Regions from separate parts of the Homo sapiens genome. Here region 1 is linked to region 2. Evidence: fine-mapped expression QTL. Tissue or cell type: whole blood. Region 2 holds a variant in brackets; the other region holds the start of a gene. Each region is shown on its reference strand, or each on the opposite one.

What was found. PIP is the estimated chance that this variant, and not a neighbour inherited with it, causes the effect.
Region 1: it holds the start of RORC, and the variant in region 2 is the best candidate, but not a certain one, in a credible set for the expression of RORC in whole blood (TOPMed, PIP 0.60).

Annotation. Positions count from the first base shown.
Region 1 is chr1:151,823,406-151,840,325 of GRCh38, forward strand. RORC (RAR related orphan receptor C) reads right to left here and starts at 8,397. Exons shown (of 11, transcript NM_005060.4): 1 at 8,320-8,397; 2 at 6,024-6,053. The coding sequence starts at 8,359. It overlaps C2CD4D (C2 calcium dependent domain containing 4D), which reads right to left and starts at 16,415. Exons shown (of 2, transcript NM_001394591.1): 1 at 16,259-16,415; 2 at 14,413-15,815. The coding sequence starts at 15,584. The coding sequence ends at 14,523. It overlaps C2CD4D-AS1 (C2CD4D and THEM5 antisense RNA 1), which reads left to right and starts at 14,872. Exons shown (of 4, transcript NR_152846.1): 1 at 14,872-15,332. RefSeq lists enhancers at 1,449-2,384, 5,646-6,331, 7,018-7,705, 16,162-16,211, 16,752-16,821 and silencers at 14,969-15,068, 15,079-15,198, 15,269-15,358.
Region 2 is chr19:16,328,364-16,342,444 of GRCh38, forward strand. KLF2 (KLF transcription factor 2) reads left to right here. Exons shown (of 3, transcript NM_016270.4): 3 at 1-322. Among named protein-coding and RNA genes, the nearest start is that of KLF2, 11 kb to the left of the region's middle. RefSeq lists enhancers at 585-734, 2,578-2,687 and a silencer at 2,178-2,227. The variant C/T (reference allele first, on the strand shown) is at 3,608.

The DNA of each region.
Region 1 (16,920 bases), not on the chromosome of region 2:
AGTCTCTTTGGCGTACAGACACATTATCTCCACTTGACAGCAGCAGGTCGGATGGCAGGGTGCTGGTGCCATCCTTGTCAGAGCCACCCTACTTCCCTCTTACCGCTTGCCTAGACCCTGTGTCTCCCTGTCTTCCCTTTACTGCCAGTTATCTTTTCTCTCCGCCTCTCCCTGTGTCTATGTGCCTTGTGATCTTCTGCATTCCAGCTCTGTTTCTGGGCTTCACACCTTCATGTTTGTTTGTTTGTTTAAGAGACAGGGTCTCGCTCTGTCACCTAAGCTAGGGTGCTGTGACATTGATCATAGCTCACTGCAGCCTTGAACTCCTGGGCTCAAACGATCCTCCTGCCTCAGTCTCCTGAGTAGCTGGGACTACAGGTACACGCCACCATGCCCAGCGAATTAAAAAAAACTTTTTTTGTAGGGACAGCGGCTCACTTTGTTGCCCAGGCTGGTCTCAAACTCCTGGCCTCAAGCCTCAGCCTCCTGAAGTGGGATTATAGGCATGAGCCACCACGCCCGGCTGCACCTCCATGCGTTTGGCTCTATTGGTGTTTCTCCAACCACACCTCCAGCTGGACATTACTCTCTCCCTAGGTGTTCCAGAAACTCGCCCTCTGAGTTGGGCCTCTGCATCTCTCCTTATTTCTTGATTTGTTTCTGCTCCTTTTGTCGGGCCCTTGGTCTCTGGGTGTGTCACAGTCCCAAGCCCCATGTGCTTTGACTTTTGCCATCGGCGGTTGGAGGGGCTGGTGGTGGTTGGCACTCATTGGGGTCAGATAACTTGGGGCTATGAGATACCTGTAAATGTCCAAGTGAGAAGGACCAGTGGCACTGACCCCCTCGTTGGAGGAGGCCCTCTCTCCTACTTCCCCGCCTGGGTGGGGCTGTGTGTGTGTGGTGGGGGTGGGAATAATGGAGAGCTGGCCAAGTGTCTCCCTCAGCCCCTCCTGGGGACTCCTGCCCCGCTGCTGGGCTAGAAGCACACCTAGTCATTTCATCCCAGGGTTGATTTGCTCATTAGGGGCCATCTCTGGGAAGACCAGTCTGCCAGCGTTTGCTGCTAATAGAGAGAAGCTAGAAGGGAAACGGAAGCTCCAAGGGGCCCTTTCCTCTGTGTAGAAGCTGTTGGCTCTTCTCTCCAGCCCTCCTTATCCACCCCAGCTCATATGCCTGCACTGTGGCCTCAGTCCCTGTCACAGAAGTGGAATTCTTTTCTTTCCTTGGTTTCCCTTCCTTCTAACCTCTGGGAGAGCTGAGTCTCCATCATCACCCTTGGGGATGCCTGCCTTAGGGCACTGGGCTCTCTCTTGGCCCTGGGCCTTTGGAATGGGAGACTCTCCATAGTTGGTTTTGTTGTTCTATCTTAAAATTCAGCTCCCTTGTTTTGCGGATGGTAGACCAGGGCCCAGTGACTTGGCTTGTCTAAGTCTATATGGCTAGCCAGTGATAGGCGGCACAAGTGCCTGGTCTTACACTGTCAGTCCAGGGGTCTTTCCAGGACTCAATACGGCCTCCCTTCTGTGGCTTGTGGGAAGACCCCAGGTTGAAGCTGGGGCTGCTTCAGGCCTCAGCCACAGGGGCATGGGGCTTCCCTTTTCCTCCTTCACCTTGTGCTCTGAGAGCTTCTCTGGCTTCCCTGGCTTCCCTTCACAACAAATACAGGGGACTTCCTGAGGTTGCCCACCCTTGCTCTGCTGGAAGGCACAGGAACCCCAGACATCTGCCCACCAACTGTTGGCCCAGGGCTCCAAGCCAGGAAAAGGGTGAGGCCGAGGTCTTTCCAATCCCATCTCCATTGCCTTGCTTCCCCGGTCAAATGGGTGACTGACCCTGGAGAACCACACACACACATACACACACACCCCACACACACACGCACACACACACATGCACACACACGCAGGCATGTGCCCGGGTGCACCCTGACTGGATTCCACATAGTCCTCATGTCCCTGGATTGGGCAGAAAGCCTGGTGGCTTTGAGGCCTGGACGCGGGGATTCTGTGCCCTGCTGCCTGCCAACCTCAGTTGACTCTCGCTGTCCTGTTGCTTCAGAGCACAGCAACTGCTCTGGCCTCCTTTTACTCACAAGCAGGCTGGAGGCACAGAGGGAAACACCGTAACAAGGGAAACACTGTAACAGGAGAGTGCGTTCAGGGCCCCTAGTAATTACCAGCCCCCATCAGATACCAGCTGTGTAACATTGGGCCAAGTACGCGGCCTCCTTGGCTCTCAGTCTTTTTGTAAAATTAAGGGCCTGGATACCTCAGATACTTTTGGAGGTTCTTTTTGGAACTCAGGAATTCCTCAACAGTCCTCTTACCATTGCTGCTGTCAGGGAGCCGCCTGGCCAGCAGGACTCCCCAGCTGCTCCACCCATCTCCCAACAGATCTTGACCTTGACCAGGACGCACCCTGCTTTGCTCAGATTTGCTCACACTGTTCCCAAGACATCCTCCTTTCCAGAGGGGTGACGACAGGGTCCAGGCTCCCCCGCCCCCAGGTGGCCCCATTCACTTACTTCTCATGACTGAGCCTTGGCTCTGCCGGCCTTGGCTCCCTGTCCTTCTCAGCAGGGGGTGGTCCAGGAGTGGGGTGCAGCTGGCGGCAGAGGCGGGGCGAGGCCCTCTCAGCAGCGCCTCAGCCTGAAGCTCTGCACCTAGCTCTCTCCCCCAGTGCTTCTGGACTGGGGGGTTTAAGCTCTGCACCACACAGGTGGCCAAGTGACAACCCCCCACCCCACCCCCAAGGGGTGCAGTGAGTAGGATGACAGGCGCCCCACGTGGCCAATCTGGGCCTGGGGCAGGGTGTGAGGGGAGGGGCAGCCAATCGTAGGGGGCGTTGGAAAATTCCAAAACCACATGCGACAGCCACACGCGGTAAAAGCTGTTTCCACCCGCCAGGGTAGTTCTGGCTGGGGAGCCAGAATGGAGCTCACACGAGCCTGAAGCCAAATTTCTACTCCTCCTACCCCCGAGGACCTTCCAAGCCTGACCCTCTTTGCCAGGTGACTTCAGGGACAGGGATGTTTTCAGAGGTAAGTCACAGGATGTCTGCCTGGGGTGGTGGCATGTGCCACCTGACACCCTGTGGACTGCCAACAGCCATACCCAGTGTGGTGCAGCCTGGGGGGCTGTCCCACCACTCCCATGCCCACGCTCCTCCCTGCAGACACCACATATATCTTGCGCTAGGGAATACATGGAAATGATAGAAGCAGTAATAATCACCAGGCAAATACCCACAATCCACAGAAGGAAACCAGAAATTTCCTTAGGAGCCAAACTGCTGAAATTGGAGTGTAGATAATGATCATCATCACCATCATCATACTCATAATCATAATAATAGTGCTTACTATTATGTGTCAGAAATGGTTCTCGATGTTTTATGTGGATAATCTAATCCTCACAAAATACTTTATGTGGGCCGGGGGCAGTGGCTCACGCCTGTAATCCCAGCACTTTGGGAGCCCAAGGTGGGTGGATCACCTGAGGTTAGGAGTTCGAGACCGGCCTGGCCAACATGGTGAAACCCCATCTCTACTAAAAATACAAAAATTAGCCAGGCATGGTGGCGAGCACCTGTAGTCCCAGCTACTCAGGGGGCTGAGGCAGGAGAATCGCTTGAACCCGGGAGGCGGAGTTTGCAGTGAGCTGAGATAATGCCACTGCACTACAGCCTGAGCAACTGAGTAAGACTCTGTCTCAAAAAGAAAAAATAAAAAAACTTTATGAAGTAGCTACCATTATCCTCATTTCGAGGAGGAAAGTGAGACACAGAGAGGTTAAGTAACTTGCCCAAGGTTACACAGCTAGTAAGTGGCAGAGTCAGGATTCAAGCCCAGGCAGACTGGCTTCGGATCCCACTTGAAGGATGGGAGGGTTTCTCTGGTTCAAGTCTGCTTTTGAGGGTGTCTCAGCCTGGGAGGTCCCTCGGTATGTGAGTCTCTCTGGAGTGTTTTTTGGCCTGGGGGAGGGGGGTCCTTCTCAGGGGCCAAACAATTCCAGAGACCTTCTCAGCCTCTTAGGTGCTTTGTGGGGTACATTGGCTTTGAGAGTCCCTCTTCAGGGCCCCTCAGTATTCAGGCTCCCTCTTGGTCTGGGGAGTTCCCCCGGGTTCCCCATCTTGGACCCCCATCTTGGGGTTGTCTCAATTCAGGAGCCAATTTTCAGAGTCTCTCGGCCTGGGGGAGGCCTTAATGTCTCCTGGATTCTGTGGGGCAAACTCCTGAGAGGTGTCTGATCTTGCTGGGACTCCAGACCCTCTCATCCAGGCACAGGCCTTTCCTTGCCTTCCTGGGCCTTCCTGGGGCTTCAGGAGCTGGGCCGTGGAGTGGGGGAGAGGCTGTCAGCCTGGATCCTCAGGACAACACTCTTGGGGTGGGGACACGAGGACTGGTGGGATGGGAAAGGGATAAGGAGGTATAGTCCTGGCTGAGGTTTCTGAGGTCAGGGGTTAAGGGTAGGAATAGGGTTTGACCTCTCCCAGTTCCTGCTGCTCCGAAAGTCCCCCTACTCCCCCCACCCACATAAGGTCCGTGACCCCCCTCCCCCAGCTCACCCGCGTCACTCCCTGACCCGCTTTCCTCCCGGGGCCCTGCTCAGCATTTCCGTGGGGCCCTGTGGCTAGGGGCAGGCGAGACACTGATCAGGATTATGCTGAGCAAAGCAACCCCCACCCAGGAGGAGGTAGCATCCTGGATGGCCCTCAGCCCTGGGCTGCCCAGCTCATGGAGAAGGGCAATGCTTTGCTCTCTGAGATGTCTCTACTTGGAACAGGGAGGCTCTAGACAATTTTGGCATTGGGCGAGATGGCAGTGAGCTCTCAGGAGGAACTGGCAAGGCAGTCAAGGGACGGCTATGGAGAAATGGTGTGGCCACTCCTACCCTGGAGGGATCCTCTCGATTCAGGGACCCATGCTCACAGAAGGGCACGCATGGCCCTGATGGGCATAGCTTTGGGACTGTGTGCATTCTCTGGGGGACTAGCCTTTGCCACAAACTAGGAGAGGAGAGCTGATGTGCTGAGTGGTCCCTAGAGAGGATTCTTATTCACTAGCGTCCACTGGGAAGTCCTCTCTGAGCTCTAGTGCCCTTCTTACCTGCTGTAGTCTGGCTTTCAGGGCCCCAGGACACAGAGTGCCCCTGTCCATTCTGTTTCCTACAGAGATAAAGCTCTCCTGCTCTCTAGTCCTGCACAGGCTGGCTCCAGGCTTGTTCACACCTCAGGATGTGTTAACCACAGAGATGAACACCAAACCTGGCTCAGGACCACAGAGCTTGGTGCAGGCTGGGCACAGTGGCCCATGCCTGTAATCTCAGCACTTTGGGAGGCCGAGAGGGGTGGATCACAAGGTCAAGAGTCTGAGACCAGCCTGACCAACATGGTGAAACCCCGTCTCTACTAAAAATACAAAAATTAGCCAGGCGTGGTGGTGGGTGCCTGTAGTCCCAGCTACTCGAGAGGCTGAGGCAGGAGAATCGCTTGAACCTGGGAGGTGGAGGTTGCAGTGAGCCGAGATTGTGCCATCGTACTCCCGCCCAGGCGACAGTGTGAGACTCTGTCTCAAAAAAAAAAAAAAAAAGCCTGGTGCAGGCTCCCTGTCTCCCTTGGCAGCAGCGCTGAGTTCCTGAGTTCCTGAGGCCACCCCGCCTCCGCACACCCCCCTACCTCTATCTCCTTCCTTCCCCGGCCTGGCAGTCGGCCCCACCCCCTCCCATCTCCCTGCCTCTGTCCAGCATTTCTCCTCGCCTTTTTTCACAAGGCGGTTCCCTTTTCCTTTGTTCTCTCCTGGTTTCTTTACAGTGTTTCCTTTCATGCTTCAGGCTTCTTCCTCATCTCCTCCCACTGCCCTGATCTGTGGTTTCCTCGCACCTCCCCTTGCTTTCCTGTTGCCTGCCATCTCTTCCTGACTCCTCCACCTCTGTCCAACCTCAGTCCCCCCACAGATCACTTGCTGAATTATTCTCCATCTCATTATGCCCCAGCCATTTTCTTGCCCCGGACCCCCTACTCACAGGTGTGGGTCTTCTTTGCAGCCAGCAGCTCTGTAAAGACAAGAGAGGGGGTTGACGTCAAAGGTTGAAGATCATGAGGGGCTGAGACACTTTCCCCACTCCTAGGATCCCACTGCCGCACTCCTTCCCTCAGAGCCTGGCGTCTGAAGGGCAGGCAGGCCACCCCCTGCAGTGCCCCTCTCTCCTCCTCTGCCCTTGGGCCACACTGGCCCTCTTCCAGGTACCCAGAAGTGTCAGGCTCCTCACTGCCTCTGGGACTCCCCCAAGCTGCTCCTTTGCCTAGAATGCCTGTCCCTCCTGTACCCCTTAATCTAGCCAACTTCTCTTTCTCCCTCAGGTCTCTGATTATGTTTCTTCCTTGGAGAAGCCACACACACCCCCTTCCCCTGCCCTTGTGCTGACACATTTAGCTCCTTGCATTTTATTTCCTGGCACTCACCATGTCACCAACTGTCACCTAACTGCTGTAATTGTGTCATTGTCTATGAAATGGGTCTTTCCTGCCAAATTGTAAAGCCCTGTGAAGGCAGGGACTGTGTTGGTCTTATTTACTTTGTAATTTCATTGGAGGTGCACAAGAAATATCCTACAGCCAGAGTTAAATCTCTGTGGGACTGAAATCTCTTGGTTGCTTATCTATGCCTGAAAACACCAGGGCTTCAGAGATGTGGGGGTTGGGAGTAGGGGGAGAGGATGTTTGGAGGAAGAGGAGGGGAGAGTTGCAAATACAGACCCCTCTCTGGCTTCCACGGGCCAGGCTTCCCTGGCCTACCAGCCTGAAGAGGAAGGCCTCCCTTCTCTGCTGCTGCTGCGTGGCCGGGTCTGGGTGGAGATTGGGCAGTAGGGAGCATGAGTGGGTCGATGGGGGTCACATGGATACTCGGACCTCCAGGGGGAGCAGCCGTTGAGGGGAGGGCCTTAGCTGGAGCATGGTTGGTGGGTGGGGGGGTGTCACCCATTCATGCAGTTAACATCTATGAAACACCTAGCCAGGGAGCCCCTGGAAAGAGGATTCCCCTGCCAGACCTTGGCCCATTTCCTACATCCACATAGCAGCTCATCACAGAACACATGGCCAGTCTTTTGTCTCAGAAAGCCCTTCAACCATGCCCTATACCCCCTATAGCTTCCCTAACCTCTGACTCTATTCTGTTATTTTTTTCCTTCTGCTGTTCAGTCTTGACACCTGACATACACACACACACACACACACACACACACACACACACACACAGTGCCCTTCTGCCCGGGAGATGCTCCCCACTGGCAGGCCGTGGTCACTAGGCTGTGTGGAGGCGAGTGGCCTGATGGCCTGGGCTCTGCTGGGGTGAGGGAGGAGAAAAGACTGCCCCGAGGTGGCAAGGCCCCACCCAGCCCCGCCCACCTCCCCTTGCTCCTGCCTGGCCCCACCCAGCTTCCTCCCTGACGTGGCACCGGCTCCTGGCCTCTAGCCTTGCACCTCAGAGCAGTCCTGTGGTGGGGGTGCTCCCCTTGCTCACCCAGGCAGCCAGTTCTTCCTCCACCAGGTGGCCCTGGAGCTTGGTGGCTCTGGCCCTCAAACTTTCCTCCTCCATGCTCACAGCTGACCAAGCCTGTGGCCCTGCGATCCTGCTCTGAGGGGGTTCCTGACTTGGACCATGGGTGGGGCCAAGGACGGCCTGACATTCTGTCCTTCCCTGCTGATGGCCCAGTGCCCCACATTCTCTGCAGAGATGAAATCCCACATCCCTGGGTGAGTGGCGAGGAAAGGACCAGGCTACGTGGTCATGGGCAGCTGACAGGGTGTGGTTCCCCCTGCCACACTCCCCAAGTCTGTCACTCCTTAAAGGACAGGTTTCTCCACTGGTGAATGAACAGAAGGTGGAGCAGCCAGCCTCCCGGCCACTGCTGTCTGGGGTCCTGGCCAGATCAAGGAAGCAGTGTCCCTGTGCCTCCTGGGGGGTAAGCCCACACCTGGGAGGGCCTGTCCACATTCTGACCCCTCGCTGGGTCTAGATCTGGCTCCCCTGACTTGGCTCTTCCCTCCCCATCTACCCTCCAACCTGTTTCTTCCTTCTCCCGCTTCTCCCTTTCTTTCCTGTTTCTCTCCTTTTGCGATTTCTTCTCCTCTGTCATCTCCCCAGCCCCTCCTCCTGTTTCTCCTCCAGTTTCACTCCCTGCCAACCCAGGGCTTTCTCCTCTGCACTCTTGTCCCTCCCTCCCCTCCTCACTTCTTGCCCAGTCTCTTGCCATTTCTGCCCTCCTCTGAACCTCCAGCAGTCTCTTCCACCTGCAGGCAGGGCCATGGGCCTCTTACCCCGTGAGGCTCGGTGCTGTCTCTGTGGGGCCCTGTCCATGGGGCAGCTCCCTTGGTGCCGTCCTGGCTGCCCTGGCTGCCCAGGAGGGCAGGGAGCAGGGCCCAGGGGAGGGAGGAGGGCGGAGGGTGGAAGGCGGGAGCACCTGGCCCTCCAGCAGGCAGGGAAAAGGAGTGGCTGGCAGAGTGTCCTGGCACCAGGAGGGGACATGAGGAGAGACCAGTGGACCAGTGCATGGAGCCTTGAGGAGAAACAGGACAGGAGAAAGGAAGGGAACTAGCATTTATTAATCACTTACTGTGTGCTGGGCCCTTTGCAGGACACTTTATGTAAATCCATGCTTTTACTTTGTGTAAATATTCACAGCACCCACCACAGGGAAACATTATTATTCCAGATTGATCAGTGAGTGGAGGGATTCTCAGAGATATTAATGATTTTGCCCAAGGACTCACACAAGAACAATAAATGGGTGAGCTATGATTTGGACCCAAGTCTTTGTGACTTTAGAATCCTGTGATTTCTACCTAAGACAGGTGACAGGCATAGGGGAGATGGAGAGGGCAGGTTTGGGGGACTGTGTCTCTTCTCTAGGATGCAGTCAGACTCCTCCCAGTGACTGTTCAGTTCCCTGAGGCCTCTGCCTGCTCGGCCCCTGCCCCTAACCCTTGCTGCTCTTGCCAGGACTCCCTGACCCCCTGATGCTTCTACGTGCTCCTCATCTGTTGGGGCAAGGGGCAGGCCTGGAGGAGTGCCTGGAGGCAGAGAAGCCATGGTGGGGAAGAGGAGAGGAGAGATGCTGCACTGGACTCATTGGGAGAAGGAGAGGCTCCCAGACCTAGTGGCCCACACTGAGGCCTGCAGTGAAGGCTCTGAAGGGGGCCAAGAGGACGAGGCTTCTGGGGATCCTGGTGCTGCTTTTCTCCTGCATGGCCTGGGCCCAGAGTTTGATTAGCTGGGCCTGACTCTCCTGGTTACCCAACAAGCAACTGGCCAGGGGCCAGGCTGCAGCAAGAGGCTCCCTGGCACCTCCTCCTGCTCTCGTTCCCAGCTGGTAAACAGCAGAGCAGGAGTCAGCCATGCCACAGCCTCGTGACTCGCCCACTCCCCCCCACCTGGTGCACGTGGCACCTGGCATGGAGAGGGCAAGCAGCTGTCCCTTCCCTCTTCTGCCGTCTCGTCTCGCCATCCTCCACTCCTGCCCAACCCTGGAGCTTCACACTCTGCTACCATCAGCACCTCTGTTCTTAGGTAGCTCCCAGAGTCTCCCCATGGCTGCAGATTGAGAGATAAAGGTAGAAGTGGAGAAGGACTTTTCAACTCCTAGGGTCATTGACAGTGGATGAGTAGTGAGAAAGAGGAGGGGAAGTTTTGGGGACCTTCTGCACTGAGTCTAAGGGTATGTGCCTATGCCTCTGAGGCTCTGATTATCCCCCGTGTTCTTTTGGTAAATGTGGGCCCACGCATCCATGTATGCATCTCTGCACAGAACAGGATGTTGGTCTGTTTGGGGGCTCTGCACCTTGGGCAGGTTTGGAGTGAGAGGTAAAGTGCTTTGCAGCTCCCTTCCCCCCCGCCCCCCCAGCACCCTCCAGCTGACAGGAGGAGCCAGCAACATGCCGGGCGTGGGAGTGCAGGGGAGATGCCGTTCTGCTCCCCTCCTCCCCAGAACTCCTCAGTTATCCCCCATCTCTCTGTCTCTCTTTGCTGGCTCCTGCCTGTCTGTGGCTCTTCTCCAGCTGTCCCCTCTCTATCTTTTCTCCTTTTTAGGCCTCTCTTCCTCTTGACTCTGGGTCTCCCAGGGGCCCTTCGTGACTACCTCTTCTACAACCCACCAATTGCAGGCACAGAGTGGAGGTCACGTAGAATGCTTGCGGATGGACACAGAGCATCCCCAGACACTGCAGGCACAGCTGACTCCCCAGTTGTGCCACTTTGTGCTACTATGTAGGGTGGGGAGGAAGTGACTGGAGATTTAGAAGACAGTATCCTGACCTCTAGGCCTAGGAGTGTCACATGCTTCCTAGGCATTCTCTACCTCTCCCCTGCCCTAAGCATGGATAGTTTGAGTTTTTTTTCTCCCCAGGGCAAGAAGATCCCTTGGTTATCCTTATGGGAAGTTCCCCCTCTTGTCTAAACTTTCTCCCTCTTGCTGCAATCACAGCCCCTTATCTGGAAGAATCGTCCTTTCAAAGCAGGGCGGTGGTTATTTCCTCTTCAAATACAATCTTATATAAGGAAGGGGCTGATAGGGATCAGAGAATCATTTCATCCCCACGTGCCCAGTCCCCTTATTGGGGAAATCTCCATGCTGGGGGCAAACACTCTGGAAGGGATGGGAGGTGGTGGTGGTGGCTTGGAACTGGGGAGCAGTCCCCAGCATCTCTTTCCTTCCTTCCCCAACCCTAAACCACAGAAACCACTTAAAGCTCAGCACAAATCTGCCCTTTCAGGGAGGGCCTGGGGGTCAAGGTGGAAAATATGTGGAGCCTGGGTAGTCTGCGGTGGCACACACTTCCCCAGCCCCATCCTTGGAGGGCCCTCTCCTTGGGATGCCTGATCCAGTGATTAGGGACCACTTTTCTTTGGGTTCTAGGGGGTTCCATGCCTGGGGACGCCTCAACCCACTGGAGTGACTCAGGGATGGGTTGTGCCTCAACCGTTGAAAAAGGACAGCCCAGGCTCTGTAACCTTCGGTAGCCTCCAGATCTCACAGTCCCCACCCCTCCCCCTTCTTGTCACAAAGGCCACTGTGGGTGGAGGAACAGTGGGAGTTTGACCCTAGCTCCTGGCCTTGAACTTTCCACAGTGACCCTGCTTGTACCTCTCCTCTACCAATTAACATTTATAGTCACACAGGCTTGGAGGTGGCAAGAAGGGTTTAAATGCTGGGGCAGAATCACTTATAAGAATGTGGTCTGCCATTTACTAGCTGTAGGCCCTGAGGGAAATCTCAGCCCTCAGCTACCACATCAGTAAAAATGGGGCAATAATACCTGTCCTAACTAGTGGATTTTTTTGTTTTGTTTTGTTTTTGAGACAAGGTCTCACTTTGTCACCCAGGCTGGAGTGCAGTGGCGTGATCTCAGCTTACTGCAGGCTTGACCTCCTGGGTTCAAGAGGTCCTCCTGCTTCAGCCCCCCAAGTAGTTGGGACTACAAGTGCATGCCACCACATGCAACTAATTTTTGCATTTTTTGTAGAGATGGGGTTTCACCATGTTGCCCAGGCTGGTCTCAAACTCCTGAGCTCAGGTAATCTGCCCGCCTCAGCCTCCCACATTTATCCACTTATCAAAGTGTTAGGATTACAGTCATGAGCCACCACACCTGGCCTCTGACTAGTGTTTATAGAAGTGCTTTGGGGCCAGAGCAATCTGCACACTGGAGGGTTTCTTAGGACCTCCTCACTCCCATGTTTCTGTACTTTAGCTACCCAGGATGTTCCTCCAGCAATGCTAGGGCCCCCATCACAGAGCCTCAGGGCTGTGAATGCTGAGTGAACTGCTCCTGGGAGGAGTGGCCTTGGATTTCCTCACAGCTTCCCCTAAGCAGTTGGGGTGGCAGTGGGGGTGTCTGGGTGGAGTCAGGTCAGAACCTTTCCCTCCAGCCAGGGCTGTTCCCCAGGCAAGCTTACTTAACCTATCTATCTGATCCATTTCTTTCTTTGTAAAGTGGGAATAATAATACCTACTCTCCTGAGTGGTTGTGACGCGGTGGCTTACGCCTGTAATCCCAGCACTTTGGGAGGCCGAGGTGGGTGGATCATGAGACCGAGACCGAGATCATGAGACCAAATCAGGAGATCGAGACCATCCTGGCTAACACGGTGAAACCCCGTCTCTACTAAAAATACAAAAAACCAGCGGGTGTGGTGGCACGCGCCTGTAGTGGCAGCTACTCGGGAGGCTGAGGCAGGAGAATCACTTGAACCTGGGAGGTGGAGATTGCAGTGAGACGAGATCGCACCACCGCACTCCAGCCTGGGCAACAGAGTGAGACTCCGTCCCCCCACCCCAAAAAAGAGGAATACTAATATCTACTCTACTGAGTGGTTGTGATGATCAACTGAGATAACACAGATAAAGTTCAGGACCTGGTCCAAAGTACTATGGTTAAAAAAAAAAAGTTTCCTCTCCTCCCTCCCTCTTTCTGTCCCTATAATCTTCCCTTCTCTTTATCTGACCCCTCTTTTCTATTCCCTTTCTTGCTTTATTTTTCTCTGTAACATATCACCAAGTAGCATTCTTTACATTTTAATGGCTTATTTTATCACTTTTCTGATCCCCATGTCTGTTTAATCACTGCTGTATCCAATGCCTGCCACCTGATGGACCTTCCCGAAGTATTTGTTGAAGGAATGCATGAATGAAGGTTCTACGGCCTCTAACTTTCTTTCCAGATACTTTCAAATGGGCATCAAATCCAGTTTCTCACCAAGGGTTGTTATGGGAGAATTTGGGGGCTGAAATAGAAATCCAGTACTAGGGGTAGACCTAAATCTATAGGTAGACTTCCCAGAATTCAAACATGGGATTTTAAACTGGCAGGGTACGAAACCTTTGCAGAGCTACCATCTTAGGGAAGGAGGCCCCTTTTAGAGTGACTTGATTGGGAGGCAGCAGCTGGCAGTGGGGGGTATTATCTTGAAGTGATTAAGAGTCCACACTCTGGAGCCAGACTCCCTGAATTCTTCCCTTTACTAGCTATGTGAGTCCTAGTTCTTCCCTTTACTAGCTATGCGAGGCCCAAGATCCCATTGGATAATAATAGTATTTACACCCTAATAGAAGGTGCTGGGAGGAATAAATGGCTTGACTAATTGTTGGAACAGTTCCTCATGTGGTTATAATCCATGTGTAGTAGTTAGCACTTAGGATTGTTTGGTCAATGCCACCACCTGGTGGACACCTGGAGCAAGAGTTCTCTGGCCTAGGGCTGGGTGGTGCGGACCCAATCAGGGAAGGGAGAAGGAACTGGAGAGCTGTCTGAATGAAGCCGTGTGTGTGTGTGTGTGTGTGTGTGTGTGTGTGTGTGTGTCTCTGTGTGTGTGTCTCTGTGTGTGTGTGTGTGTGTGTGTGTGTGTGTGTGTGTTGGAATTTAACGTGTCCAGGTGCTGAGGCTTTTGAGGTTTTGTCAGATCCCGCAAGCTTAGCCCTGGTGCAGGCCACAGCTGGCACCATGAAAAATGAGAAAGGGCCCAAGGGAGAGGGAGAAAGAAGTTGGGTTAGCCTAGTGCCTACCTCACTTCCTCCCTCCCTCCTCCAAGCCTGGCCTGAGTCCAGAGGAACCGGCTCCTGGGAAGGTGGAGGGAGAGAGAAGAAGGTCACTGCTGACGTCAGGGACATTCAGGTAGAGGTAAACACAATGTGACCTACAATTATCCACCTCCCCCCACCCCCACCTCCTTCTGGCTGGAGGAGGCTCTTCTGGCATTCCTGAGAACAGTTCTCACACTTTGGTAGTACCCCACCTCCCCCCTTTCAATCCCTGGGACATTATATCTCATTCATTTGGTACCCAAGCACCTCTCTGGTTCTTGGCTCCAGACTTGCCCCACCCCTCAAGGGACGCACAGGTGTGGAAGAGGCAAGAGGGAAGAAGGAAGACTAAAGGGCACTCTGTGTTCATCTGACATCCCCTGACTCACTCTCAAGAGCCAGAAATTTCATCTGTCTTCAGGACAGATGTGGGTTTTAGAGGGGCACAGGAAGGGAGTGTTAATTTCCTCTGTGCAGCCTCAAGTGGAAGGTGGCTTGTGTTGGTTTCTGTCAGAGTGACTCAGTGATTGCAGGGCTCCCTGATTGTTCGGGGGCCTTGTTGGCCGGGGACCTTAGGACCTACTTGGCCCAGATCTACTGAAGGAGCATCTCATAGGGATGGAGCCCAGGACCCTGCATATTTAAAAAGCTCTTCCAGGATTTCTGATGTCTGGTTATTCTGATGCTCCTTCAAGCTTGAGAACCACTGCTTAAGGTCTGCTCTACTCAGACCGTCTGAATGAGCATCTTCCCCCCGCGTATGGCCGGGATAGAGGGAAGATCGGTAGGCTCTATGCCCGAGCGTGTAAGGTGCCAGTAAGGGGAAATATCTGGCTAAGGACAAGGGGACATTTTATTAGCAAAAATAAATACAAGCCGGGCAGGGTGGAAAGAATGTGGACTGCAGACACAGTGGAGACGTCCTGAGGAAGCCAGGGGCTCAGGCTACAGGCTGAGATGGGTGGGCGCCAGGGATGACCCGGGACCTAGTCCCCCACCCAGCGGGGGCAGCAGCGCAATGAGGGGCGTCTCGCACTCCCCCAGCAGCACATCCCTGCGAAGTCCCGCGCCCCTGTCTAGCACCTTGGCTCTCAGGCTGCGGGCGGCCAGGTCCGGGGGGCCGAGCCCGTCGAAAAAGAAATCCTCGTTGAAGATGGGGTTGGCGCTGCACTTGACCACGCGGCTCTGCTGCTCCCGCGGCCGGACGCGGGGCCGCAGCCTCAGCACCACACAGCAGCCGCCGCCGCCGCTCCCGGGGCGGGACCGCGGCCGGGGCAGGCCCTCGGCGCTCACTAGGCGCAGCCGCAGCCGCCCGGGCCCGGCCTGATATTCGGTGGAGAGCCGCAGCTGCCCGCCGCGGGGCCCCAGGCGCAGCACGCTCTCGCGCGTGGGCCGCAGCTGGCAGCACAGGAAGTCCAGGTGGAAGAGCGGCGGCGTGGGCGGCCCGGCGCGGCGCGGCGAGTGCGGGCTGGTATCGGCCGAGCTCGCTTTTTCTGGGGACAGAGAGTGAGGCCTGGACACCCGGCGCCGGCCCAGGCCTGGCCGCGGGGAGCCGAAGGGCGACGAGTCCGGCGACGAGGCCGTGTCGCTGTCGGGGGCCCGGCAGAGGCGCAGGTCCGGGGCGGAGACGTGCAGCCGGGACTGCGCCGCGGGGAGTCCCCCGGCCGGGGCAGGTGGCGGCCCGTGGAACAGGGATTCCCGCCGGCGCGTGTGCGGGCTCTCGGGCAGGAAGGCCCAGCCTTCGCGGCCCGCCAGGTGAGGCAGCGAGCAGGTCGCGGGGAGGCCGCGCCCCGCCACGTGCCGCCGGGCCGCGGGCACTGCGCCGCCCGGGTCCGGGAGCCGAGGCGGGATGAAGAACTGCGGGATGCGATCCGGGGTGAGGACGTTGGGGCAGGCGCTTGTGGGCGGGCCCGGGGCGCGACGCTTGGAGAACAGGCCGGAAGGCGCCCAACGGGCCGCAGGCTCCGCGGCCCCCACCTTATAGCCAGCTTTTTCCAAGAGCCACATGCGGTGGGTGGGGTAATGGAATTCCGAATTCCGCAGGGCCGAGAGGGTCCAAATCCCGTCTCAGATGGGAGTGCTCGGCGGAGCGGGGCTGGGCGAGGAGCGCAGAGGAGTCAGAGGTGAGTGATGCTGGCGTACACCGGGCGGTCAGCCACCGCGCCCCGGTCTCCGGACCCACTGGGAGCGCGGACCCCTATTTGAGCAGAAAAAGAAAGGGCGGCGCAGTCTGGGGGGCTGGGGAGAAATGGAGGGAGCAAAGGGCCAGTCAGTCACATTTTCATATACGGGCCTCCGTCACCAAGTACACAGATTCTCCCACTGGTACTAAAGATGCCCCATTCACCTTACAGTTAGAGGGCCCATATAGTATCCACCAGAACCCTAGGGTACTATTAGGACAAATAGGATAATAACCGCATTATAGCAAAAGGACTCAGATCCCAACCCCCCTGGGACACTGCGCCCTAGGCGGGCTCACGCCCTCCTCCCCCGCCCATTTCGAAGACTTGGGTTTTCCTCTGGGATCCAGTCTGGCGCCCCTTGGGACTTCCTCCCTTTGCCAGGCTGCCCCGGCTCAAGCTTCTCTGGCCTGAGCCATCCCTCAGTCCTAGCCCCACCTGCCTCCTCTGGCTCCTCCTTCCCCTCCTCGAGTCGCTCCAAGCCAGAAGAGGACTCACTTCTGCTCCTGGCAGCCAGGGGACACACCTGGCTGCTGACCTCAGGACACCCTGGGCTGGTCCAAGGAGACGCACCTCCCGGGGACACAGAATCCCACCCCCAGTAGCCCTGACCGTCCAGCTCCCGCGCCTCCCAGCCCTACCGCATCCCGCGTCTGCAGGGCGGGGCCGGGCCGTTGGGTCGCCCCTCCTACTCTCCACTCCTTTTCTCCCTCGGAAACCACCGAGCACAAAGGCAGCATTGATTCTCCGCCACCCTCAGAGCGGTCTCCGGAAGGCTCCGCCACCACGCGCTCGCCTCACCCCTGCGCGGAGCCACCAAGAGCACCGTGTTCCGACCCTCTGCCCTGGGATCCGAGCTAGCGACCCTCTCCGTCGCGCGCCCGGAGTGCTGGCCTCACCTGTGGGTCGCTTTTGGGTTCTGGCCTCAGGCCCTGAAACTTTCAGAGCCAGAGGGGAGCAGCTTTCTCTGCAGCTTGCTCCCCCAGCGCAGTCCTTATGGGAGGAGCTGGCAGGGGCCTCCGCTGCCTACGTCCTACCTCTTTTCCTGGATAAACACAGCTCTGTCTGCGCGGCCATCAGCCCGGTCTTCTGACTTCCTCCAGCTGAAGCCAGGTTTCTAGCAACAATCCATTCCTGTGCCCAGGCCTCCTCTGCTGAAG
Region 2 (14,081 bases):
CAGGCAAGGAGGTATCTCTCCCCCCAGATTTCACCTGCCACCCCTCACCTTCCCCATTCTCAGGGGCCCCGGGTAACCATGACCACCAACCATTGCACAAGTTTCCAGAAAGTGAAAATAGCTCGTAAGCAGCGCCTGCTTTAAAACACTCTCACCCCGTTGCGACAGAGGCTGGGATTTCCTCCCTCCCTGCATCCTTCCTCCTCCCCAACTACGGCAGCCCTGGAAACAGCTGAGAGGTGTTTGGTAATCCACGAAAAGCAGAAATACGATTTGACAATCTGATTCATTTTCCGAGAGTAAATAGCCTGGCCTCACTTCCGCTGCTGATGAAGGGTGTGAATGTTTTTGAGCCTCCTGTACCCTCTGCGTGCAGCTTCTGCAAAAACCGTCCCAAGACAGAATGTTGGCCCCTCGACCTGGGGAGATGATCCCCCTTTTTAAAAGCTGGCCTCTGCAGTGCAGGGGCAGAAGAAGGACTCGCGGGTGGTTTAAAACAATATTAAGGGTCTCCAGGTTTCCCTGTTCAGCTTAAACTTAGTGATCAAGCTATTTTTCTTGCTTATTTGAAAATGTCTTCCAGGTTTCTCCTGGAAGCTTCTGAGTCCAGTGAAAGGCAAATCGTTCACGGGGCTGAAGCTGTTTCTGTTTCTTGCGTGTATGTTCTGTTGGAGAACAGACAGAATAGAAAGTGTGATAGTTGTACGTTTCAGTAAGAGACACCAACTCAGGCAGCGCTAGGTCATACCGACTAATCCAGAAATATCCCATCATCATTTTTTTCTGCCCCTTTCTGACACTCAAATGCCAATTTCCATGATCTTCTGCATCTGTGATGCTCAGTGGAGAGTGACCCAGTCTGGGAACATTTTTGGTTGTCAACTCGGGGGTGCTGCTGGCATCTGGTGGACAGAGGTGGGTGATGTTGCTAAGCATTCTGCAGTGTACAGACAGCCCCCACCACAGAGAATAGCCCAGCTCTGAATGTCAGCAGTGCTGAGGTTGAGACATCGCCTCTGGTTCCTAAAAGATCATTGCTCTTATCAGCAAGAAGGTGACTCTGTGCCACGAAGCAAGCTTTGGTGGCAAATGCCACCCAGAAAAAGGTACAAAGAAAACCTCACCCTGGGGCCATCTTCACCTAGGATTCTACAACCCAATCCCAATGCAAGTTTTTCTTTCTTTCTTTCTTTCTTTCTTTCTTTCTTTCTTTTTTTTTGGAGACAGTCTCGCTCTGTTGCCCAGGCTAGAGTACAGTGGCACAATCTCAGCTCACTGCAACTTCTGCCTCCTGGGTTCAAGTAATTCTCCTACCTCAGCACCTCCTAGTAGCTGGTATTACAGGCGCGCGCCACCAAGCCCAACTAATTTTTGGATTTTTAGTAAAGATGGGGTTTCGCCATGTTGGCCAGGCTGGTCTCGAACTCCTGACCTCAGGTGATCCACCCACCTCAGCCTCCCAAAGTGCTGGGATTACAGGAGTGAGCCACCGCACCCAAACTCTCTCTCTCTCTCTCTCTTTTTAGAGCAGGAGATTTGTGGTCACTGGCTGAATTACTTTTCATGGCTGTGATTTTCGCTATATTCTTTCTTTTCCCCAGGCAAAGTTATAATCATTTGTCGATGCTGTTTTTTCCCCCAGTTATACATTTGTATTGTCATTTTCATGGCTGCATAATATTCCTTTTAGATATGGCAGGAGTTATTTATGGAAACAAGCACTGTGGGTAAAAGGGTTGAAAAGGGTGAAGGTTTTATTTTGTTTGGTTTGAGATAGGGTCTCATCTGTCACCCAGGCTGGAGTGCAGTGGCACAATCACTACAATCTTGACCTCCTGGGTTCAAGCAATCCTCCTGCCTCAGCCTCCCGAGTAGCTGGGATTACAGGCATGCATCACCATGCCCAGCTAATTTTTACATTTTTTTGTACAGAGGGGATCTCACTATATTGCCCCTCCTGGGCTCAAGCAATCCTCCCGCCTCAGCCTCTCAAAATGCTGGGATTAAAGATGCAGACCACCAAGCCCAGCTATGGCAGGGGGTGGGGGAGAGGTGACAGTTTTGAGGGGCTTATTGGCATGGTGCTGGGGAGAGATGTAGGAGCTATTTTTCTGCTAGGCACTTCCTGTAGTTCTGGGGGCCCCAGCACCCAGGCAGGCTGCAGAATGATGTGGTGTGAAGTGGGAGGAGGAAGGGGGCGTTGTCAGAGGGCAAGATGTCTATAGGCTCACCCCTGACTCAGCACCCAGCCCTGTCAACACGGTTGAGTCAGCACCCACGCCCGGCAGCCCCAGGTGGAGTCCCAGGACCATAGGCTCAAGCTGATTTGTCAGGTGCCAGGGCTGGGTGGCTCCGATTGCCCCGGCCTGAGCTGTGTCAGCTGTGCCAGACCAGCGAGCATCAGCCTTGGAGCTGGGCACAGCGGTGGCTCATGCCTGTAATCCCAGCACTTTGGGAGGCCGAGGTGTGGGGATCTCTTGAGCCAAGGAGTTTGAGACCAGCCTGGGCAACATAGAGAGACCCTGTTTCTGGGTGGGTGGGGGGCGGGGGAAGAGAGAGAGAAGAGAGAAAAAACAAAAGACATTTGGAGCTGAATCATTCTCCAGTGCGGGGCCACCCTGTGCACTGCAGTGTTCAACAGCATCTCTGGCCTTCACCGACTCAATGCCAATTAACACCCGTCCCCTGGCCAGACCCGGGGGCTCACACCTGTAATTCCAGCACTTTGGGAGGGCAAGGCGGGTGGATCACTTGAGCTCAGGAGTTCGAGGCCAGCCTGGCCAATATGGTGAAACCCTGTCTCTACTTAAAAAAAAAAAAAATTAGCTGGGTGTGGTGGCAGGCGCCTATAATCTCTGTCATCTCAGCTACTTGGGAGGCTGAGTCAGGAGAATCACTGGAACCTGGGAGGCGGAGGTTGCACTGAGCTGAGATGGCGCCTGGGTGACATAGGGAGAGTCCATCTCAAAAAAAAAAAGAAAGAAACCCTCAGATCAGCCGTGCGACTTTGCCTGCCTGTGCCTCAGTTTCCTTGGGTGGAAAATGAGTTTGCTGCTGTGAAAATGAAATGAGACACTAAAGCTCAGAGCCCACCCCTGGGGTGTGGCCAGCACAGTGAGTGTCCTCTGATAAAGCTGGTGTGCCTGAATTTTAAGGCCCCTTCCTCCCTCTCTCTCCCTCTCCCCACAACCCTCTTCGCTCATTCATTCATTCATTCACCTGTTCATTCAGCAGATGCTCTGTATGGCAAGCAGATATGACTCAGAATCTCAGGAGTGACTCTGGCCGGGCGCAATGGTTCACACCTGTAATCCCAGCACTTTGGGAGGCCGAGGCAGGTGGATCACCTGAGGTCAGGAGTTCGAGACCAGCCTGGCCAACATGGTGAGACCCCGTCTCTACTAAAAACACAAAAATTAGCTGGGTATGGTGGCAGGCGCCTATAATCCCAGCTACTCGGGAAGCTGAGGGACGAGAATTGCTTGAACCCGGGAGGCAGAGGTTTCAGTGAGCTGAGATCACACCACTGCACTCCAGCCTGAGAGACAGAGCGAGACTCTGTCTCAAAAAAAAAAAAAAAAAAAGTGACGTAGCCTCTGGGCCTTGC[C/T]CAGAGTCAGTGCCAAAATGTTTGTCGCATGACCTAACTTTGTGCTAACGGTGGACCCTGTGACTCGAGCTTGGGTGCTTTCATTCTGGGCACCTTCAACAAATTATCTCTTTCAACCTCCCCACAAGCCTGAGGGTTGCCTAAGCACCCCCATTTTCTAGAGGTGGAAAGTGGGGTTCAGAGAGGGGAAGGTTAGCTGGGGGACCTGGTGCAGGTGGCAGAGCTGAGGCTTCAACCCAGGTCTGCCTGGCCTGGCCACCGCAACTCCTCCTGTGCCTAGAAACATCTGAATGCACCAATGCATCAGGTTTGCCCTGTTTCCCTCCACACACAGGTTCTAGGGGTTCCTGGAAGCCCTGCTGAGTTCCTTCTAGGCTTTTGTCTAAAAGGAACTGAGAAGCCCATTTGCCAGGAATATCCCAGACAGGGAGGGACAAGGGGTCGGGAAGAGGCTGGGTGAATAGGGTTCCCTGAGGTGCCCTATAAGAAGTTAGGAGGAGGCCGGGCACAGTGGCTCACGCCTGTAATCCCAGCACTTTGGGAGGTCAAGGCAGGTGGATCATTTGAGGTCAGGAGTTCGAGACCAGCCTGGCCAACATGGTGAAACCTCGTCTCTACTAAAAATACAAAAATTAGCTTGGAGTAGTGGTGGGCACCTGTGATCCCAGCTACTTGGGAGGCTGAGGCAGGAGAATTGCATGAACCCGGGAGGCGGAGGTTGCAGTGAGCCGAGATCACACCATTGCACACTAGCCTGGGCGACAGAGGAAGACTCCATCTCAAAAAAAAAATAATAATAAGTTAAGACGAGCCTGGGGGCCAGACACCATGGCTCACGCATGTAATCCCAGCACTTTGGGAGGCCAAGGCAGGTGGATTACTGGAGGTCAGAAGTTCAAGATCAGCCTGGCCAACATGGTGAAACCCCATCTCTACTAAAAAAAAAAAAAAAATACAGAAATTAGCCGGGCGTGGTGGTGCACACCTGTAATCCCAGGTACTCGGGAGGCTAAGGCAGGAGAATCACCTGAACCCAGGAGGCAGAGGTTACAGTGAGCCGAGATTGCACCACTGCACTCCGGCCTGGGCAACAGAGCAAGACTCTGTTTCAAAAAAAAAAAAAAAATGCTAAACATGGAATTGCCATAGGTCCCAGTGATTCCATTCCTAGGTATAGTCCCAAGAGAAATAAAAACCGGGACACAAACAGATACTTGCACACACGTGTTCGAGGCAGCACCATTTACATGCGCCAGACGGTGGAAACAGCCCAAATACCCATCAACTCATGAATCAATAAAAGTGTGGTATATCCATATGACCCAGTGGTTTTTGTGTTTGTTTTTTGGGATAAGGTCTCGCTCTGTTGCCCAGGCTGGAGTGCAGTGGTGCGATCACAGCTAACTGCAGCCTCGAACCCCTGGGTTCAAGCAATCCTCCTGCATCAGCCTCTCGGGCTGGTTCTTACTGGGGGCTCCCCTGAGTGCAGAGAACAGGCCCAAGCTGATGCCAGTTAGGGAAGTCATCTCTATAGTTCTAGAAGGGATACTGAGCCCAGGAGGCTGGAGACAGGGGCCTCACCAACCCTCTGCTCGTAGCCTGAGCTCTTTCTCCAGCGTGATTTGATCTGCCCCATCACCGTGTTCTTTTCTCTCTCATCCCATATTTTCTTTCTTTCATTCTTTCTCTTTATTGTGATTAAATATACATAACATAAAATTGACTGTTTTTGTTTTGTTTTGTTTGAGACAGGGTCTCACTCTGTTGCCCAGGCTGGAGTGCAGTGGTGCGATCACAGCTCACTGCAGCCTCGACCTCCTCAGGCTCACGTGATCCTCCCGCCTCAGCCTCCAGAGCAGCTGGGACTATAGGAGTGTGCTACTACGCCTGGCTAATTTTTCTATTTTTTGTAGAGCCTGAGTCTCACTGTGTTACCCAGGCTGGTCGCAAACTCCTGGGCTCAAATGAACCATCCACCTTGGCCTCCCAAAATGCTGGGATTACAAGAGTGAGACATTGTGCCTGGCTAAAATTCACTTTTTTTTTTTTTGTGACAGAGTCTTGCTCTGTCACCCAGGCTGGAGTGCAGTGGCACGATCTCGGTTCACTGCAACCTCCCACCTCAAGTGATTCTCCTGCCTCAGCCTCCCGAGTAGCTGGGATTACAGGCGCACGCCAGCACAGCCGGCTAATTTTTATATTTTCAGTAGAGACGGGGTTTCACCATGTTGGCCAATGGTCTCAAACTCCTGACCTCAGGTGATCCGCCCCCCTTGGCCTCCCAAAGTGCTAGGAATACAGGCGTGAGCCACCACACCCAGCACAAAATTGGTTATTTTTAAGTGTTCAGTTCAGCAGCATTCACAGCATTGTGCCACCTTCACCACCACCCATCTCCAGAGCTTTTCCCTTCTTCCCAAACTGAAACTTTGATCCCATTAAACACTCACTTCCCATTCTCCCTCCCCAGCCACTGGCCCCCACCCTTCTTCCTTCTGTCTCTACAAATTTGAGCACTCTGAGGACCTCCTAGGAGTGGAATCATACAGTATCTGTCCTTTCCTGTAGTTTATTTCACTCAGCATAATGTCTTCAAGATTCATCCACGTGGTAGTGTGTGTCAGAATTTCCTTCCTTTTTATGACTCAGTAATATTCCATTGTGTGGAAGGACCACATTTTGTATGTCCATTCATTCCTTGATGAACACTTGGTCATTTCCACCCCTTGGCTGCTATGAACATGAGTGTGCAAATACCCATTCCAGCCCCTGCTATCAGTTTTTTGGGGCTGTGTCCCTAACAGTGGAATGGCTGGATACCCTTTTTTACTTTTTACTGTTAGTATTTTTTGAGACAGAGTCTCACTCTCTCGCCCAGCCTGCAGTGCAGTGGTGCAGTCTCAGCTCACTGCACCCTCTGCCTCCCGGGTTCAAGTGATTCTCCTGCCTCAGCCTCCCAAGTAACTGGGATTACAGGCGTGCACCACCTCACCCAGCTAATTTTTGTATTTTTAGTAGAGACGACGTTTCACCATGTTGGCCAGGCTGGTCTCGAACTCCTGACCTCAAGCGATCCTCCTGCCTCGGCCTCCCAAAGTGCTGAGATTACAGGCGTCAGCCAACGCGCCTGGCCTGGGTATCCTTTTTTAAACTTTATTCGTGGCTGCTGATAACGCTCAAAAGAGTTTTTCTTTCCTTAGCAGCTCGCCTAAGAGCCATTGACCCAGGCTGAGCATCGTCTGCGAGCCTCCCTGAGAGCTCAGATTCACACCAGCCGGCATCTGTCGCCTCAGCCTGCAACATTCTGGGCCTCGATTTCCTCTTCTTTGAAATGGGGGTAACAGCGCAGAGCAGTGGGAGCACGGCCGGTGCCCTGGCCTTGGGGGCCGCCCGGAAATCGGGGTTTTGCAGCAGCTTGGGTTGTGCAGAGAGGCAGAGGCTGTCAGGGAGATGGACGGGCCTGAGGTGGAGGTGCCGCTCACACCCGGCACACCCGCCGCCTGCTCAGCCCACAGCCTGCTCTGCGCAGCCAGCTCTGCGCAGCCAGCTCCCCTCCCCACCTAGGCCCCGGCCATCTCAAGACAGCCTCCTCCGGAGGGGACACAGACTCCTGCACACCAGACCCAGAGACTCTTAGGCCGGCGACTAAACTGAAAAGCCCTCACTCTGCAGGGTGGGGAAACTGAGGCCCGGGTATCCAAATCCTCCGGCAGACAGACGCCAACCGACCTACATGGGTCTTGGGGTCTTCCTGAGCCACAAACGCAAATCCCACAGGAGGAGCTGGTCCCTCAGGTGGGGTTCCTACCAGGGACATGGCTTGCCAGGATTTGACCCCGTTTTAACCTAGAACAGCCAGGTGTGCTGGCTCATACCTGTAATCCCAGCACTTTGGGAGGCTGAGGTGGGAGGACCACTTGAGGCTGGGAGTTTGAGACCAGCCTGGGGAACATAGCAAGACCCCATCTCTTAAAAAAAGAGCGTGGTAGCAGGCATGGTAGCATGCATCTATAGTCCCAACTACTCAGGAGGCTGAGGTGGGAAGATCACTTGGGCCCAGGAGTTTGAGGCTGCAGTGAGCTATGATTGTGCCACTGCACTCTGATATGGGTGATAGAGCAAGACCCTGCCTCTAATAAATAAATAATTATTTTTATAATTTATTATAAAATTATAAATGTTATAAAAATTAATTTAATTTAATTAAATAAAAAAAGCAAGGTAGCTCATGCCTGTAATTCTAGCACTTTGGGAGACCAAGGTGAGCAGATCACTTGAGGCCAGGAGTTCGAGACCAGCCTGGCCAACATGGTGAAACCCTGTCTCTACTAAAAATACAAAAAAAAAAAATTAAGCCGGGCGCGGTGGTGTGCAGGTATAGTCCCAGCTACTCGGGTGGCTGAGGTATGAGAATCACTTGAACCCAGGAGATGGAGGTTGCAATGAGCCACGATCACGCCACTGCACTCCAGCCTGGGTGACAGAGTGAGTCCCTGTCTCAAAATAAGTAAATAAATAATATCATCTAGAACGATGTAAACAGAACATTGCATTGACATTTTGTCAATTGCCACAAAATTGACATTTTGTCAATGGTTTGTCATTGCAAGCCATTTTGTTTTTTCTCTCCCCGCCATCCCCCCTCCTTTTTCTTTAAACATGGGGAGTTTATAAATCCATGAGACCTAACAAGCAGCTATAGGACACTCCACACAACAGCAGGACACACTTTCTTCTTGAGGGTGCAAGGAACATTCCCTGGGAGAGGCCAAAGAATAAATCCAGTGCATTGAAAAGGATCGCAATTCTATAAAGTATGTCCTCTGACCACAATGGAATGAAGTGAGAAATAAGAAACAGAGAGGAATTTGGCAAACTTAAGAAATATGTAGAAATTCAAGAACGCACTTGTAAAGACAAGGAGGACCTACTCTAAGATTCATCAGAAAATCCCAGCATTTGAGACCAGCCTGCGCCACATGGTGAGACCCCATCCACAGAAAAAATACAAAAAATCGCCGGGCCTGGTGGCGTGCACCTGTAATCCTAGATACTCGGGAGGCTGAGGTGGGAGGATCACTTGAAACAGGGAGGTAGAGGCTGCAGTGAGCCGCGATCGCATCACTGCACTCCAGCCTGGGCAACAGAGTGAGGCCCTGTCTCAAAAAAAACGAAAAGAAAAGAAAAAAAGAAAAAGGCCATGTGTAGTGGCTTACACCTGTAATCCCAGCACTTTGGGAGGCTGAGGCAGGTGAATCACCTGAGGTCTGGAGTTCGAGACCAGCCTGGCCAACATGGTGAAACCCCATCTCTACTAAAAATACAAAAAAAAAAAAGACAACACACACACACACACACACACACACACACACACACACACACACAAAACAAACTAGCTGGGCATGGTGGCAGGCACCTATAATCCCAGCTACTCAGGAGGCTGAGGTAGGAGAATCGCTTGAACCCGGGAGGCGGAGGTTGCAGTGAGCTGAGATCGCATCATTGCACTCCAGCCTGGGCAAAAAAGCAACACTCCACCTCAAAAAAAAAAAAGACAAAAAAACATTCTAGCAGTGGGAAGGTCCTTTAGGGGCCTAAGCTCCTGAGTGGGGACCAGTCCGGCTTTGTGCAGGGACTCAGTGCACCTGGGGCTCTCTCTGCAGATATGAGATGTGCATGGGCTCTTCTGGATGTTGCCCTAGTGAGTTCTGAGGGCTCCTGTGGGCTCGTAGCTTCTAGAGTGGATGATTCCCCCAAGATCACTGTGGGGAACACCAAGAGTGGCTGCTCCCCACAGCTTCAAGGCTGCCAGTGGGGACTCCACTGGAGGTCCGCTTCTGGGGGGCTGCCACGTGTCCCCAGCTTTAGTCAGGACCCCTCCCACAACAGCATCCCCTGCTCCCATCCACATCTCCAGGTCCTCCAACTCCTGTGACCCTTCCCCAATCCCACATCTTTGCACAGGCTGTTCCTCATGGCAAAAAGCCCTTCCTGTGTGTCCGTGGGGCAGATGCCAGTCCGCCCCCCAAGGCCTGGCTCCGGCATCACCTCCACTGGGAAGCCTGCCCTGATTCCCATAGAAGCACCCCAGCCTGCCCCGTGCCAGCTTGGACCTCACAGGGTGGGAGCGCCAGATCTGTGGCTGGCTCCTCCTTCCCACTAGACTGGGCAGCAGCAGAGAGGGGTGCTGAATGACTCGGGGGACCTGGTTGACAAGGGGTCAGGACCGTGAAGGGGACAGTGGTTTTACTCCCCTGTCATAGTCACAGAGAGCAACACACAAAATCCAAGGATTCCTGGGATGACAGAATTTCTGACCTCAAGGCCAAGATGATGCTGGGTAGAGTGTGCAGCGTGTAGTGTAGACGGGGACTTGGATCCGCTGGCCCTGGCTGCCTGGAGATGCTGGGTAGAGCACGTAGTATGCAGCGTAGACAGCATTCAGAGTCCCTCAGCCCTGGCTGCCCCTACCTCTGCCCCTTGCCCCTGGCCATGGCCCTGGGCGCACGCCTGGCCCTCTCTGAGCCACAGCTCCCTCCCACCAGGGCTGGTGAGAAAAGTAAACCGAGAGTGCTGTTTCCTGCCACCCTGCTGGGTGCTCAGCCTCCCTCCACCCGCATCCTCTCGAGTGGGTAGAATCCCAACTGGGGGCCCTCTGGCAGGGTCCGGGAGCTGGCACACGAGCAGGCACTCTGGCTCGGCCATGCATCCGTCCATGGGCCACTCGCCGAGACACGTGGCTCTAAATGGACACAGTCATTCAGGAAATAGCGCCTCGCCCACCGAATGCCAGGCGCCACTCAGCAGGCTGCTGTAACTCCGCAGGCTGCCTCCTGAATTGCCCTCCACTTTCAACCTTGACCCCAGGTTGGCCTTTCTGGGGACTGTCCCAAGATCGAGAGACACACTTCACAGCCAAGCCCTCGTCTGCAGCCTCGGAGCTATGAGATGTTCCAGCTCCAGGGAAAAAACTCAGGAATCAGAAGTCTGGCCAGCCCCATCCCACTCCTCTTGGCTTTAATGTAACTCAGAGGCACCGATCCTGGCTCTTGGGGCAGAATTCTCCACATTCCTGGTGTGTTTCCGTTGAACCCCAAACCGCAAACACATCCTGACATCTCATTTCCTCAATGTGCCCTGGTGGTGACTCGGGCCACCTTGCCGGGAGCTCGTTTTGAGTCATACAGAGATTTGTCGAAGGAAGGGTTTCTCATCTCAGAAGTTGGAGGCCGTTCCCACCAACCTCCCTCCCTGCATCTGTACAAGAATTGCTGGCGGGGCTGCTATTCCCTGATGCTTGGATCTGAGCTCTCAGTGACTCGGGAGGCACTGGCCAGGGGCCCTGGACAAATCTAAGCTCAGTTCCTTATGTCACCACTGTCAACCTCAGGCACGGGAAGGCGGCTCTCAGTCTCTTTCCTCCTCTGTAGAGCTGGGCTCTTAGCAGCTATCTTGGCCGGGCTCTATCTCAAATGGATGGAATCTGGGCTATGCCTGACACATAGTAGGTGCTCAGTGAAGGAATGGTGCCCATTAGTGAGAGAGGGAGACAGGGCTGGGCATGGTGATGTGCACCCGTGGTCCCAGCTACTTAGGAGGCTGAGGCAGAAGGATCCCTAGAGGCCAGGAGGTCGAGACAGCAATGAGCTATGATTGCACCGTTGCACTCCAGCCTGGGCAACAGAGCAAGACCCTGTCCTTAAAATAATAATAGTAATAATAATTTATTGAACTCCTGACCTCAGGTGATCCACCCGCCTCGGCCTTCCAAAGTGCTGAGATTACAAGCATGAGCCACTGTGCCTGGCTGAATAATAATCACTAAAAAATTAATCTAAACATAATTTCTAGGCTGGGTGCGGTGGCTCATGCCTGTAATCCCAGCACTTTGGGAGGCCAAGGCGGGCAGATCACCTGAGGTCAGGATTTTGAAACCAGCCTGGCCAACATGGCGAAACCCTGTCTCTAATTTAAAAAAAAAAGAAAAAAAAAATTAGCCCGGTGTGGTGGTGCATGCCTGTAGTCCCAGCTGCTGGGGAGGCTGAGAATTGTTTGAACCCAGGAGGTGGACGTTGCAGTGAGTTAAGATCATGCCACTACACTTCAGCCTAGGCAACAGAGAGAGACCCTGTCTCTAAATAAATAAATGAGAGAGAGAGAGAAAAAAAATCCAAGGAAACAAGCCCATTCATTCTACTTAATTCCGCTGGTCTCTGGGAGGCAGGTTGGGGGTGGAGAAATTCCATGTTTTTACAGAATCCTGACGTCACCAGCAACTGCCCCACCAGGAGCTAACTTCAGCACGGGCGGAGGGAGGGTGTCTGCCCACGACCTGACCTTGAACTGGGCCTTTCTTAAATGTAAATGTGCATCTCCTTTGGTGCTTTTTTAAGTGGGAGAGGTCCCTGAAAGGTTGTTGCCTGGAGGAAAAGTTTTGGCAATTAACTTTTATTATTGTTTGCTTGCTTAAAGAAACTGGGGGCCCAGAGCAGTGAGTGGCTTATGCCTGTAATCCCAGCACTCTGGGAAGCCGAGGCGGGCAGATCACTTGAGCCCAGGACTTCCAGACCAGCCTGGCCAACAAAAATTAGCCAGGCATGGTGGAGTGCACCTGTAATCCCAGCTACTCGGGAGGCTGAGGCAGGGGGATCACTTGAACCCGGGAGGCAGAGGCTGCAGTGAGCTAATATTGCTCCACTGCACTCCAACCTGCTGGGCGACAGAGTGAGACTGTCTCAAAAAACAATTGGGATGTTCATCAAAGCACTATTCATAACAGCCAAAAAGTAGAAACAACCCAAGTGTCCATTAGAGAATGAATAAGAAAACTGTGATCCATACATACAATGGAATATTATTCAGCCATGAAAAGGAATGAAGCACTGATCCATGCTACAATGTGGATGAGCCCCCAAAACATTCTGAGTGAGAGAAGCCAGACGCGAAAGCCCACATAGTGTGAGATTCCACTGATACAAAATGCCCAGAACAGGCAAATCCAGAGAGACAGGAAGCAGATGAGTGGCTGCCAGGGGCTGGGGGAGGGGAATGGGGAGTGGCTGCTGATGGGGACAGGGTCTCCTCTTGGGGGATGCAAATGTTCTGGAATTAGACAGAGGTGATGGTTGCACAACATTGTGAATGCACGAAATGCCACTACCGTGTACACTTCATGGTTAGTTTTATGTTATGTGAATTTCAGCTCAATTTTAAGGTGTAAAAAAAGCAATTGAGAATAAGTTGCTTCTGTTGTAAAACGTTACTTTTTTTTTCAGACGGAGTCTTGCTCTGTCGCCCACGCTGGAGTGCAGTGGTGCAATCTCGGCTAACTGCAACCTCCGCCTCCCAGGTTCAGGTGATTCTCCTGCCTCGGCCTCCCCAGCAGCTGGAATTACCGGCGCCCGCCACCACTCCCAGCTAATTTTTGTATTTTTAGTAGAGACGGGTTTCACTGTGTTGGCCAGAAGGGTCTCAAATGCCTGACCTCAAGTGATCCACCCACCTTGGCCTCTTAAAATGCTGGGATTACAGGCATGAGCCACCATGCGCAGCCACATTACTATTTTTAATACAGTTATTTTGTCAATATAACATAAAGTTTGGACCGAGTATCCACTGATGAATGAATGGATAAACAAAATGTGGTCTATCCATCTATCCAGACAATGGAATAGTATTCAGTTTTTAAAAAGAAAGAGATTATAGGGCCGGGCGCGGTGGCTCACGCTTGTAATCCCAACACTTTGGGAGGCCGAGGCGGGCGGATCATGAGGTCAGGAGTTCGAAACTAGCCTGGCCAACATGGTGAAACCCAGTCTATACTAAAAATACAAAAATTAGCTGGGCGTGGCGGTGCGTGCCTGTAATCCCAGCTACTCGGGAGGCTGAGGCAGGAGAATTGTTTGAACCCAGGAGGCGGAGGTTGCAGTGAGCCGAGATCACGCCATTACACTCCAGCCTGGGCAGCAGTGCAAGACTACAATTCAAAAAAAAAAGAAAAGAAAAGAAAAGAAAAAGAGAAAGATTCTGACACATACATGCTCCAACAGGAACTATCCTAAGTGAAATACGCCAGACACAAAAAGAGAAATACTGTATGAGTCCATGCATCAGATTCATAGAGACAGGAAGTAGAATGGTGGGTGCGAGGGGCTGGGGGAGGAGGAAATGGGGAATGAGTATTTAGTGGGGGCAGAGTTTCAGTTTTACAAGCTGACAAGAGCTCTGCTGCGTAACATGAATGGACTGGGGTGAGCCGTGAGGGCTGGAGGGCCCTCAGACAAGAGAAAGGATGACAGTTCCAAGGCTTCAAACAGATGCTCTGAGAGAACCAGTCCTCAGAAAGGCTGAGAATCCCTGGAATTTTTCCTGGGCTGGAAGGGATCTGCTCTATGGCTTAAAGGTCTTGGCCAAGGGCCTGAAGAACCACCCATCTTCCAGGGCCCAGGCACTCCGACTCCTCAAATTTAAATAC